Homo sapiens: one gene and its partner. The protein of the gene in region 1 interacts with the protein of each later gene in a pairwise test. Each region holds a gene or a part of one and is shown in the gene's direction. Other genes may lie near its edges.

Evidence for each region. Proteins that work in one complex are often made in the same cells at the same time.
Region 2: the proteins of EPCIP (region 1) and PKD1 interact in binary tests that used the Homo sapiens proteins (3 or more experiments, as listed by UniProt).

What each region holds. Positions count from the first base shown.
Region 1 is NC_000021.9:32,810,678-32,817,833, reverse strand, and holds the start of EPCIP (exosomal polycystin-1-interacting protein precursor), read left to right. Parts: upstream 1-4,130; 5' UTR 4,131-4,242; intron 4,243-7,156. UniProt on the Homo sapiens protein: Likely to be involved with PKD1 in the detection, sequestration and exocytosis of senescent mitochondria.
Region 2 is NC_000016.10:2,104,862-2,111,898, reverse strand, and holds part of PKD1 (polycystin-1 isoform 1 precursor), read left to right. Parts: intron 1-27; coding exon 28-3,647; intron 3,648-3,866; coding exon 3,867-4,016; intron 4,017-4,950; coding exon 4,951-5,094; intron 5,095-5,145; exon of another isoform or gene 5,146-5,221; coding exon 5,222-5,501; intron 5,502-5,594; coding exon 5,595-5,808; intron 5,809-5,874; coding exon 5,875-6,034; intron 6,035-6,424; coding exon 6,425-6,577; intron 6,578-7,037. UniProt on the Homo sapiens protein: Component of a heteromeric calcium-permeable ion channel formed by PKD1 and PKD2 that is activated by interaction between PKD1 and a Wnt family member, such as WNT3A and WNT9B. Both PKD1 and PKD2 are required for channel activity.

The sequences.
Region 1 (7,156 bases):
AGTGAACAATCAAGCAAGATTTGCTTCACTGCAGACTTACACCAGACATTATTTCCAGAAGATCAGTTGTAGAGGGGGGTGTGGATTTTCACTTTTGCTTAATACATTGGATATTATCTGAATGTGCTATCAGAAAAACTGCATTGCTTTTATGATAAAAAATAAAACGGAGAAAGAAAACAAAATTGGTCAAGGACAAAGCTAGAATTCCATCTCATTGTGAACAAACACTTGTCCACCACCCGTTGGCTCCACAGCTGAACAAAACAGGCAGTCTGAGGTGTGGTTTTATTAACCTTCCCAATACTCATTGCTGCTAAATCAACTTAAACTATGTGACCGGTTAACACAAAGAGCCAGTGGAAGTAAATGCTTTAAAAAGACAGGGAGATATAAAACCTGGGGTAAATGTTTAACATGCCATACACAGGGCCCCAGCCACATTCCATCAGCAGCTGCATGTTTGGCCTTCAAGTTTCCAGGGAAGTACCTGGCTCTTCACACTCTTTGCCTTCAGCCAGGAACCCCACTAAGCAAGAGGTCCTGGAAGGCATCCGAGTCATAAATAGAGAAAGTCACAAAGAGTAATCAATATAGTAGCTACCATTACTGGCTGCCTTATTTGTGCTCAGTTTACACTAAATACCTTATGCTGTTTATCTTAGTCATTAAAATAAAGAAGTAGAAGAGACAGTACCAGCAAACTTCCACTTACCTTGTATAGTAGGCCATTCTCGCCTTGCTATAAAGAAATACCTGAGACCGGGTAATTTATAAAGAAAAGAGGTTTAATTGTCTCATGGTTGTGTGGGCTGTACAGGAAGCATAGCAGCATCTGCTTGGCTTCTGAAGAGGCCTCAGGAAACTTACAATCGTGGAGAAGGTGAATGGGGAGCAGGTGTGTCCCATGGGGAAAGCAGGAGTAGGTGTGGGGAAGTGCCACACACTTTTAAACAACCAGATCTCATGAGAACTCACTATCGTGAGGACAGCATCAAGCATTCATGAGAAATCCACCCTCATGATCCAATCATCTCCCACCAGGCCCCACCTCCAACATTGGGGATTACAATTCCACATGATATTTGGGCGGGGACATATATCCAAACTCTGTCACCTTGTATTGGACAGAATTAAGGCACTAGTATATAATTCAGGGTTCTTGGTTACAGGCAACAGAGTCTACTCTAGCTGGTTTAAACCAGGAATTTCTTCAGATATACAGATACTGCCTTGAGTCATTGGAAGGACTGAAGAAATGGATTCTAGACTGAACTCTGAAAGTCACCATAGAATTGAACCATCATGGGGAGCTACTACCTCATCCACAACCAGGAAGTTGCTGAATTAAGAGGCCACATTCTCCAACAGGAAGTTAGTGCCACAGTCCTCAGCTCTTGAGCCATGCCATATTGGCCACAACCAGTCAACAACTCAGTCAGAAGGCCACCCCCACAACAGACCATGCCATATCTGCTGAGACCCTGGCCAGCAAGAGATTCCCAGTACTCTCCTCTCTCTTCTCACTTAATTCATTCCCAAAGTCTCAGGATCCTCTCTCCACGTGACTTCATTCTGAATCAAGTATAAATAATAAAACTTAAATCCCATCTGAAACCTCAGCTTCAAGAGACTCTGTTGTGTTGAATAATAGAGATTTCCAGTCTCTACAGTAGAGGCAGGCAAGACAGAAAGATGTTGAAATAGAGGTTGAGTACGCCAAACCATTGGATTAGCCACAGTTGCTCTGGAAAGTTGGGGTATTCGGTGTATTGTTGGCCAGCCTTTCCCTCCCTCATCTTCAGGCATCCAGTGCACATATATTATCTCATTTTTTCCTCAGCTCTACCTTTCAACAAAGTATTATTATACCCACTTTATAGATAAGGAAACTGAGGCTTATAAAGTTTAAATAATGTGCAAGAAGGTAACAGACTCAAGGTTTGAACCAAGATCCACTTTGCTATTCTTACATGGTAGAATTCATATATGTGCTTTGCTGAAACTGATCACCCAACAATAGCAGCCTCTCTCTATTCTCAATTCCCTTTATTCTGGCTGTGATTCACTGGCTTTCCAAATGGCTGAATAGGCCTGGGACTCTTCCACCTCCAAACCTTTGCTCCAGCAATTTTCTTAATTACTTGAGTTCCTTTATCCTGTGGGCCACCGAGAAGCCATTTGTGCCAGGCTCTCTGGGTGCAGAAAGGAGGAAGGATATATCCATCAGCTTGGATCCGCAGTTCATCAAATAATCACTCCATGAGAGATCGTTGTCCTTTCCCCCACATCTGACCATGCAGATCTCAGCCATCCCTTAAGGCCTAGATCCAAAACTACCTCTCCCCAAGGACTTCACCAGTCTCCCTGGCAAAGGCCGACCTTCACTGGGATTCCCCTGCATTGTGTCTGTATCTCCCTTCAAACATTTCCCAGATGCAACTTACATAATTGCCCCTCCTATAGTATAACTTCCTTAAAGACAAGAACCATGACATTGATCTCTGTGCCCCTTAAATCTCCTGGCACAGTGCATGTGTGTGGTAAGGATTCAGTAGATGAATAATAAATAAATGAATGAATAAATTTCCCTACTGAGGTGCTCTCTTCTTTAACATATTGGAGAATCTGTATCTGGGTAATTACAAATCAATTGCTCCAGACTCCTAGTGCTTTTAATTAGCAAGATTTTTCTTTATCTCAGCAGTCCCCTTCTTGGCACTAGAGACCAGTTTCATGGAAGATAATTTTTCCACAGACAGGCAGGGGTAGGAGGTGGTTTGGGGATGATTCAAGCGATTACATTTATTGTGCACTTTGTATTATTATTGCATTATAATATATAATGAAATACTTATACCACTCACCATAATGTAGAATCAGTGAGAGCCCTGAGCTTGTTTTCTTGCAACTAGACTGTCCCATCTAGGGGTGATGGGAGACAGTGACAGATCATCAGGCATTAGATTCTCATATGGAGCATGCAACCTAGATCCCTCGCATACACAGTTCACAATAGTTCACAATAGAATAGCATTCTCAATTCAATCCTATGAGAATCTAATGCCACTGCTGATCTGACAGAAGGCAGAGCTCAGGTGGTAATGTGATTGATAGGGAGCGGCTGTAAATACAGATGAAGCTTCTTCTCTTGCTCACCCACTGCTCAACTCCTACTGTAGCATGGACTGGTACCAGTCCGTGGCCTGGAGATCGGGGACCCCTGCCTTATCTTTTTTTCCCATATTTAGTGAGACTTCATCAGTTGTTAAGGCCCAGGTATTTATCTTCCCTTAAAATACATATATTGAAACCTAATCCTTAATGTGATAGCATAGGAGGTGGAGATGTTGGAATGTGATTAGGTCATGAGGGTGGAGCCCTTATGAATGGGATTAGTGCCCTTGTAAGAAGCTGAAGAAACCACAGTTTCCCTTCCACCATGTAAGGACTCAGCTAGAAGGTGCCATCTATGAACCAGGAAGCAGACCCTCACCAGAAAACAAATCTGCCTTGATCTTGGCCTTCCCAGCCTACAGAAATAAATATGTTGTTTGTAAGTTACCCAACTAATGGTATTTTGTTATAGAAGCCCACATGGACTATCAGTTAATGTACATAGAATAATTGTTACCTATTTATTGGTTTTGTGGCTTCTAATATTTTTTTAAATGAATTTTAAAAAAGACAGAGAATAATGTCTATCTTTGGAGTTCAAATGAGTTTTTTTTCTTTGGAACAACTACGATAGGACACTTTATACAGTAGTGCAGGCATTTACCATAAGTAACAATTCATCAGACCAAAAAAGGTGGAATAAATCATGAAAGTAAAAGTATCAAGGAGTCTCCGTACTCTACATTTAATCCATTCAATTTCCTGCTAAAGTAGAATTTCTTCCATTTGTGTCAATCCTTTGGGATCAGCCTACAGCAACAGTCTCCTCAGTTTCTTCTAGAAACTTCCCAGTTTAGAACCCCAAAAGAGTGGTCAGCAGTCACCAAGGCAGGTTCTCTCCTGCGTGTAGTTAATGAGACTGGTAGGCCAGCAGCTTCCTCCTGGTTGCCATGGAAATGACCAGGCTGCTGGCCCTCCGAAGACGGAAAAGAACAGCAAGTGCAAGACCACGCATTCCACCCTGGCTTGCAGATTAAACCAGCTGTCAAGCCAGGGTGAAGGATCCGTGGCCAGGCAGAGGTCTGTGGAGTGGAGAGGCGAGGCCTCACGGTGGAACTCTCAGATGTAAGTAATTTCTGTGTTCTTCTTTTTTAAAAAGCATGTCTAGTCTGACAGTTTTTCAGAGCTTCAGAATTTCTGCTGCATGGCAGGAACTGTGACGGTTGGAAGAACCATTGTCAGGGTCACCTTCTTGTTGCATTTGCATTTCCTGAACATAATGTACATGTATGAGTGGCTTTCACTATGAAACACTTTTTTAGGCTTCCAGGCATATGAATTCCTCTTTACTGAGATTCTGCCTTTAAAATGAAAGATTTTCAGTGCATTAAGCAAAGAATGACATGGTCTTCTCATTTAAACCCTAAAAAGATAAACTCACTTAAAGCTAATATAACAGATAGCTCCTTGAAATCTTGTCTCTATTTTAAAACATCTGGCTAGACTTTTCCATTAGTCTTCAATGCTAAATAACAATTAAGGAAAAGAGATATGATATCTCTTTTCCTTATTGTGATCACAAACAAAGAAAAGTGAGAACTCCCAAAACACCGGCTGATACTGTTTCTTTGCTCTGTTTTATCTTTTAATAATATTATATTTACTGCCTATTTACACACCAGGCTTTATAGAGTTTGCTGATTAGAAAACAAAGAAAAGAAAGTAAGCTAAGATGAGCATTAACATTTGGATTGGATAGTTCGTGTTTTTAAAAAATTGGTCTTTTATTCAAAAGTGAAAAAGCATGATAAATAATGTAGCAAAAGGCAAGATGAAGAGGGGAATGTTTTAATTCAAAATGAGTAGAACATATACAGTCTTGCATTTATTTCTTTGTTTAATAAGCATATTTTTGGAAAGCTTTTAGCAAAAAGTATGTTGGTGTATACTGAGGACAGGAAATGTTTCAAAAACATTGTGCATAATATTTATAAAAAACCCACCCTTAAAAAATACCAAAAAAAAGACTTCATTTGTTTGAAAATTTTTTACCGAAAAGAGCCATCCTTGAGAAGTTTTTTGCTTTTTTTTAGTCTAAATAATGCAATATGTTTGGAAGGAAAAAAAAAGACTTTTCATTACTTTTTTTTCTGACAGAAATTGGGCATTTTCTGAAAATAACAGTTTCAATAAAGTATTTATGGAAATGAGTGCTTTTCAAGAGCTGACTTGGATTTCTCATCTTTCTTTTCCACACTAATATTTTTCACTGCTTAAAGCTGCCACATTATCAGCTTTTAAAATTCAGTGCCCAGTGGCTTGTGTCTGTGTCTGTGGGAGCTAATAGGTCAATAGGCCCCAGTGGGAAGAACAGGCAGGCCTCACAGTTCTGTGGGCGTGGGACCAAGGGGCAGCTGTGCAAAGCTGTGGATGTGAACCCCAGTGATGCAATTAACTGAGTGTCTACCAAGTCACTCAAGGGGAAAGCCTGAAGGATTTGCACTCATTGCCTAATTCACTCTCTCAAGGACTGTGTCAAGTAGAAAAGTACGGTAGCCACATATTTTAGTTAGGACTTCCCAGTGGCTCACTCTCTGAGAATTCTTTGTCCCACATTCCATACCTATGTTAGCAGAAGCAGCACTCTGCTCATATTGTCCTCTATTCTGATTATGAACTTAAGAACAGAAATTTCTTTCTTATGGTTCTGGAGACTGGGAATTCCAAGGTCAAGGGGCCTGCATCTGGCAAGGGCATTCTTGCTGTTTCATTCCATGGTGGAAGGTGAAAGGGCAAGAGAACATGTGCACACACATAAGAGAGACAGAGAGAAAGGGGGTCAAATTCATCCTTTTATTTGAAACCTATTCCCATGGTGACCAACCCACTCCTCAATAACAGCATTAATCCATTCATGAGGGCACCGCCCTCTTAAAGGTCACCCCTTAAAGCTCCCACTTCTCAACACTGTTGCACTGGGGATTAAGTTTCCAACACGTGAACTTTAGGAAACACATTCAAATCATAGCATTTAGCATGAGGGTTCTATACACATATAGGTTAAAGGCTACAGCATCTAGTAATAGAATACAATGCATGGAATCTCACTTGAATAGGCCCAAGACCCTGGGGTAGGAAATAGCGCTGTAATTTCCACCATGACTCTTCAGAGTATAGTTGGCTGTCTGGGTTCAAATTTTAGCCATTATTAACTAGTTCTGTGACCTTGGACAAGTTATTTAACCTCCCTGAGTACCCATGTATCATTTCCTGATATGAAAATGGGACCATATGCAGTGGCTCATGCTTGTAACCCCAGCACTTTGAGAGGCTGTGGTGGGTGGATCACTTGAGGTCAGGAGTTCGAGACCAGCCTGGCCAAAATGGCGAAACCCAGTCTGTACTAAAAATACAAAAATTAGCTGGGCGTGGTGGTGCAACACCTATAATGCCAACTACTCGGGAGGTTGAGGCAGGAGAATTACTTGAATCCGGGATGCAGAGGTTGCAGTGAGCCGAGATAGTGCCACTGCACTCCAGCCTGGGTGACAGACTGAGACTCGGTCTAAAAAAAAAAGGGGAGGGGGGGCCATAATATCTACCTGTAGGATTACAGAAAGGATTAAATAACATAAAACACGTGAAACACTTAACAGTACCTGGCACAAAAGAAACACTCATTAGATCTTACTATTAGTGAATAAAAATATGGATAGTTCCTGATTTCATTCAATTTTCAGTATACAACATACATGTATCACATTTTATATATTATAGTATGTTGCCTCTTTATCAATGACAATTTGCTGTATTTAGCTAGCTTAGCCTTGGGAACACAGGGCTGAGGAACAGTGAATTACTGGTACAGTAACATTTCTCATAGGAGTCTGAACTTTCTTGGGAATCAGGAGCTGTGTATTTGGCATGTTAAGTTGGAGATGTCTACTAGACATTCAGAAAGAGCTATCAGATACAATGTGGGACATGTGAGCATGATGCAGTCAGGAGCTAGAGACGTATCTCAGTTCACCATCAGCAT
Region 2 (7,037 bases), on another chromosome or scaffold:
CTGCCCCACTCGGGCCTGTCCCCACAGGTGAGTACCTCCTGACCGTGCTGGCATCTAATGCCTTCGAGAACCTGACGCAGCAGGTGCCTGTGAGCGTGCGCGCCTCCCTGCCCTCCGTGGCTGTGGGTGTGAGTGACGGCGTCCTGGTGGCCGGCCGGCCCGTCACCTTCTACCCGCACCCGCTGCCCTCGCCTGGGGGTGTTCTTTACACGTGGGACTTCGGGGACGGCTCCCCTGTCCTGACCCAGAGCCAGCCGGCTGCCAACCACACCTATGCCTCGAGGGGCACCTACCACGTGCGCCTGGAGGTCAACAACACGGTGAGCGGTGCGGCGGCCCAGGCGGATGTGCGCGTCTTTGAGGAGCTCCGCGGACTCAGCGTGGACATGAGCCTGGCCGTGGAGCAGGGCGCCCCCGTGGTGGTCAGCGCCGCGGTGCAGACGGGCGACAACATCACGTGGACCTTCGACATGGGGGACGGCACCGTGCTGTCGGGCCCGGAGGCAACAGTGGAGCATGTGTACCTGCGGGCACAGAACTGCACAGTGACCGTGGGTGCGGCCAGCCCCGCCGGCCACCTGGCCCGGAGCCTGCACGTGCTGGTCTTCGTCCTGGAGGTGCTGCGCGTTGAACCCGCCGCCTGCATCCCCACGCAGCCTGACGCGCGGCTCACGGCCTACGTCACCGGGAACCCGGCCCACTACCTCTTCGACTGGACCTTCGGGGATGGCTCCTCCAACACGACCGTGCGGGGGTGCCCGACGGTGACACACAACTTCACGCGGAGCGGCACGTTCCCCCTGGCGCTGGTGCTGTCCAGCCGCGTGAACAGGGCGCATTACTTCACCAGCATCTGCGTGGAGCCAGAGGTGGGCAACGTCACCCTGCAGCCAGAGAGGCAGTTTGTGCAGCTCGGGGACGAGGCCTGGCTGGTGGCATGTGCCTGGCCCCCGTTCCCCTACCGCTACACCTGGGACTTTGGCACCGAGGAAGCCGCCCCCACCCGTGCCAGGGGCCCTGAGGTGACGTTCATCTACCGAGACCCAGGCTCCTATCTTGTGACAGTCACCGCGTCCAACAACATCTCTGCTGCCAATGACTCAGCCCTGGTGGAGGTGCAGGAGCCCGTGCTGGTCACCAGCATCAAGGTCAATGGCTCCCTTGGGCTGGAGCTGCAGCAGCCGTACCTGTTCTCTGCTGTGGGCCGTGGGCGCCCCGCCAGCTACCTGTGGGATCTGGGGGACGGTGGGTGGCTCGAGGGTCCGGAGGTCACCCACGCTTACAACAGCACAGGTGACTTCACCGTTAGGGTGGCCGGCTGGAATGAGGTGAGCCGCAGCGAGGCCTGGCTCAATGTGACGGTGAAGCGGCGCGTGCGGGGGCTCGTCGTCAATGCAAGCCGCACGGTGGTGCCCCTGAATGGGAGCGTGAGCTTCAGCACGTCGCTGGAGGCCGGCAGTGATGTGCGCTATTCCTGGGTGCTCTGTGACCGCTGCACGCCCATCCCTGGGGGTCCTACCATCTCTTACACCTTCCGCTCCGTGGGCACCTTCAATATCATCGTCACGGCTGAGAACGAGGTGGGCTCCGCCCAGGACAGCATCTTCGTCTATGTCCTGCAGCTCATAGAGGGGCTGCAGGTGGTGGGCGGTGGCCGCTACTTCCCCACCAACCACACGGTACAGCTGCAGGCCGTGGTTAGGGATGGCACCAACGTCTCCTACAGCTGGACTGCCTGGAGGGACAGGGGCCCGGCCCTGGCCGGCAGCGGCAAAGGCTTCTCGCTCACCGTGCTCGAGGCCGGCACCTACCATGTGCAGCTGCGGGCCACCAACATGCTGGGCAGCGCCTGGGCCGACTGCACCATGGACTTCGTGGAGCCTGTGGGGTGGCTGATGGTGGCCGCCTCCCCGAACCCAGCTGCCGTCAACACAAGCGTCACCCTCAGTGCCGAGCTGGCTGGTGGCAGTGGTGTCGTATACACTTGGTCCTTGGAGGAGGGGCTGAGCTGGGAGACCTCCGAGCCATTTACCACCCATAGCTTCCCCACACCCGGCCTGCACTTGGTCACCATGACGGCAGGGAACCCGCTGGGCTCAGCCAACGCCACCGTGGAAGTGGATGTGCAGGTGCCTGTGAGTGGCCTCAGCATCAGGGCCAGCGAGCCCGGAGGCAGCTTCGTGGCGGCCGGGTCCTCTGTGCCCTTTTGGGGGCAGCTGGCCACGGGCACCAATGTGAGCTGGTGCTGGGCTGTGCCCGGCGGCAGCAGCAAGCGTGGCCCTCATGTCACCATGGTCTTCCCGGATGCTGGCACCTTCTCCATCCGGCTCAATGCCTCCAACGCAGTCAGCTGGGTCTCAGCCACGTACAACCTCACGGCGGAGGAGCCCATCGTGGGCCTGGTGCTGTGGGCCAGCAGCAAGGTGGTGGCGCCCGGGCAGCTGGTCCATTTTCAGATCCTGCTGGCTGCCGGCTCAGCTGTCACCTTCCGCCTGCAGGTCGGCGGGGCCAACCCCGAGGTGCTCCCCGGGCCCCGTTTCTCCCACAGCTTCCCCCGCGTCGGAGACCACGTGGTGAGCGTGCGGGGCAAAAACCACGTGAGCTGGGCCCAGGCGCAGGTGCGCATCGTGGTGCTGGAGGCCGTGAGTGGGCTGCAGGTGCCCAACTGCTGCGAGCCTGGCATCGCCACGGGCACTGAGAGGAACTTCACAGCCCGCGTGCAGCGCGGCTCTCGGGTCGCCTACGCCTGGTACTTCTCGCTGCAGAAGGTCCAGGGCGACTCGCTGGTCATCCTGTCGGGCCGCGACGTCACCTACACGCCCGTGGCCGCGGGGCTGTTGGAGATCCAGGTGCGCGCCTTCAACGCCCTGGGCAGTGAGAACCGCACGCTGGTGCTGGAGGTTCAGGACGCCGTCCAGTATGTGGCCCTGCAGAGCGGCCCCTGCTTCACCAACCGCTCGGCGCAGTTTGAGGCCGCCACCAGCCCCAGCCCCCGGCGTGTGGCCTACCACTGGGACTTTGGGGATGGGTCGCCAGGGCAGGACACAGATGAGCCCAGGGCCGAGCACTCCTACCTGAGGCCTGGGGACTACCGCGTGCAGGTGAACGCCTCCAACCTGGTGAGCTTCTTCGTGGCGCAGGCCACGGTGACCGTCCAGGTGCTGGCCTGCCGGGAGCCGGAGGTGGACGTGGTCCTGCCCCTGCAGGTGCTGATGCGGCGATCACAGCGCAACTACTTGGAGGCCCACGTTGACCTGCGCGACTGCGTCACCTACCAGACTGAGTACCGCTGGGAGGTGTATCGCACCGCCAGCTGCCAGCGGCCGGGGCGCCCAGCGCGTGTGGCCCTGCCCGGCGTGGACGTGAGCCGGCCTCGGCTGGTGCTGCCGCGGCTGGCGCTGCCTGTGGGGCACTACTGCTTTGTGTTTGTCGTGTCATTTGGGGACACGCCACTGACACAGAGCATCCAGGCCAATGTGACGGTGGCCCCCGAGCGCCTGGTGCCCATCATTGAGGGTGGCTCATACCGCGTGTGGTCAGACACACGGGACCTGGTGCTGGATGGGAGCGAGTCCTACGACCCCAACCTGGAGGACGGCGACCAGACGCCGCTCAGTTTCCACTGGGCCTGTGTGGCTTCGACACAGGTCAGTGCGTGGCAGGGCCGTCCTCCATGCCCCTCACCCGTCCACACCCATGAGCCCAGAGAACACCCAGCTTGCCACCAGGGCTGGCCCGTCCTCAGTGCCTGGTGGGCCCCGTCCCAGCATGGGGAGGGGGTCTCCCGCGCTGTCTCCTGGGCCGGGCTCTGCTTTAAAACTGGATGGGGCTCTCAGGCCACGTCGCCCCTTGTTCTCGGCCTGCAGAGGGAGGCTGGCGGGTGTGCGCTGAACTTTGGGCCCCGCGGGAGCAGCACGGTCACCATTCCACGGGAGCGGCTGGCGGCTGGCGTGGAGTACACCTTCAGCCTGACCGTGTGGAAGGCCGGCCGCAAGGAGGAGGCCACCAACCAGACGGTGGGTGCCGCCCGCCCCTCGGCCACTTGCCTTGGACAGCCCAGCCTCCCTGGTCATCTACTGTTTTCCGTGTTTTAGTGCTGGTGGAGGCCGCACGCTCTCCCCTCTCTGTTTCTGATGCAAATTCTATGTAACACGACAGCCTGCTTCAGCTTTGCTTCCTTCCAAACCTGCCACAGTTCCACGTACAGTCTTCAAGCCACATATGCTCTAGTGGCAAAAGCTACACAGTCCCCTAGCAATACCAACAGTGAGGAAGAGCCCCTTCCCACCCCAGAGGTAGCCACTGTCCCCAGCCCATGTCCCTGTTGCTGGATGTGGTGGGCCGGTTCTCACCCTCACGCTCCCCTCTCTGGACCGGCCAGGAGGCTTGGTGACCCTGAGCCCGTGGTGGCTGCTCCTGCTGCTGTCAGGCGGGGCCTGCTGGTGCCCCAGAGTGGGCGTCTGTTCCCCAGTCCCTGCTTTCCTCAGCTGGCCTGATTGGGGGTCTTCCCAGAGGGGTCGTCTGAGGGGAGGGTGTGGGAGCAGGTTCCATCCCAGCTCAGCCTCCTGACCCAGGCCCTGGCTAAGGGCTGCAGGAGTCTGTGAGTCAGGCCTACGTGGCAGCTGCGGTCCTCACACCCACACATACGTCTCTTCTCACACGCATCCCCCCAGGGGCCCTCAGTGAGCATTGCCTGCCTCCTGCTAGGGTCCAGCTGGGTCCAGTACACCAGAACGCACACTCCAGTGTCCTCTGCCCTGTGTATGCCCTTCCGCCGTCCAAGTTGGAAGGTGGCAAACCGGATGAGTATCCTGGGAGGGAGTGAGCTCACCGGCAGTGGCCAGGCCCCTGGGAAACCTGGAGTTTGGGAGCAGCATCCTCCATGGGTCCCCCAGTCCTTCCAGCAGGCCAAATAGACCTGTGTTGGAGGTAACCCCACTCCCACGCCAGGTGCTGATCCGGAGTGGCCGGGTGCCCATTGTGTCCTTGGAGTGTGTGTCCTGCAAGGCACAGGCCGTGTACGAAGTGAGCCGCAGCTCCTACGTGTACTTGGAGGGCCGCTGCCTCAATTGCAGCAGCGGCTCCAAGCGAGGGGTGAGTGTTGAGCGGGGTGTGGGCGGGCTGGGGATGGGTCCCATGGCCGAGGGGACGGGGCCTGCAGGCAGAAGTGGGGCTGACAGGGCAGAGGGTTGCGCCCCCTCACCACCCCTTCTGCCTGCAGCGGTGGGCTGCACGTACGTTCAGCAACAAGACGCTGGTGCTGGATGAGACCACCACATCCACGGGCAGTGCAGGCATGCGACTGGTGCTGCGGCGGGGCGTGCTGCGGGACGGCGAGGGATACACCTTCACGCTCACGGTGCTGGGCCGCTCTGGCGAGGAGGAGGGCTGCGCCTCCATCCGCCTGTCCCCCAACCGCCCGCCGCTGGGGGGCTCTTGCCGCCTCTTCCCACTGGGCGCTGTGCACGCCCTCACCACCAAGGTGCACTTCGAATGCACGGGTGAGTGCAGGCCTGCGTGGGGGGAGCAGCGGGATCCCCCGACTCTGTGACGTCACGGAGCCCTCCCGTGATGCCGTGGGGACCGTCCCTCAGGCTGGCATGACGCGGAGGATGCTGGCGCCCCGCTGGTGTACGCCCTGCTGCTGCGGCGCTGTCGCCAGGGCCACTGCGAGGAGTTCTGTGTCTACAAGGGCAGCCTCTCCAGCTACGGAGCCGTGCTGCCCCCGGGTTTCAGGCCACACTTCGAGGTGGGCCTGGCCGTGGTGGTGCAGGACCAGCTGGGAGCCGCTGTGGTCGCCCTCAACAGGTGAGCCAGGCCGTGGGAGGGCGCCCCCGAGACTGCCACCTGCTCACCACCCCCCTCTGCTCGTAGGTCTTTGGCCATCACCCTCCCAGAGCCCAACGGCAGCGCAACGGGGCTCACAGTCTGGCTGCACGGGCTCACCGCTAGTGTGCTCCCAGGGCTGCTGCGGCAGGCCGATCCCCAGCACGTCATCGAGTACTCGTTGGCCCTGGTCACCGTGCTGAACGAGGTGAGTGCAGCCTGGGAGGGGACGTCACATCTGCTGCATGCGTGCTTGGGACCAAGACCTGTACCCCTGCCTGGAGCTTTGCAGAGGGCTCATCCCGGGCCCCAGAGATAAATCCCAGTGACCCTGAAGCAGCACCCCGACCTTCCGCTCCCAGCAGCCACACCCACCGGGCCCTCTCCGGCGTCTGCTTTCCACAATGCAGCCCCCGCCCAGGAGGGCCCATGTGCTTACCCTGTTTTGCCCATGAAGAAACAGCTCAGTGTTGTGGGTCAGTGCCCGCATCACACAGCGTCTAGCACGTAACTGCACCCCGGGAGTCGTGGGCATCTGCTGGCCTCCTGCCGGCCTCCTGCGCTGCTGACAGCTTGCTGTGCCCCCTGCCTGCCCCAGTACGAGCGGGCCCTGGACGTGGCGGCAGAGCCCAAGCACGAGCGGCAGCACCGAGCCCAGATACGCAAGAACATCACGGAGACTCTGGTGTCCCTGAGGGTCCACACTGTGGATGACATCCAGCAGATCGCTGCTGCGCTGGCCCAGTGCATGGTAGGATGGCCCCACCTGCTCACCCTGCCCCGCATGCCTGCCAGGGCACTGGGTTCAGCCCCCCAGGGCAGACGGGCAGCTTGGCCGAGGAGCTGAGCCTCCAGCCTGGGCTCCTTCCTGCCATGGCGTTCCTCGGTCTCTGACCTGCTTCAGTAGCCTCAGCCGTTCTGTCCTGTGTGAACGCAGGGTGCCTCTCGGGGGACCCAGGGTGTAAAGAGGGGCCCAGATGTGGGGAGGGACTAAGAAGATGCTGCTCTGTGCCCTCCACTCTCCCCTCCCCTCCCCTCCCCCTTCCCTCCCCTAGCCCCTCCCCTCCTCCCCTCCCCTAGCCCTTCCCCTCCTCCCCTCCCCTAGCCCTTTCCCTTCTTCCCCCCCAGCCCTTCCCCTCCTCCCCTCCCCTTTTTCTCCACTCCCCTCTCCTCTCTCCCCTCCTCCTCCGCTCTCATGTGAAGAGGTGCCT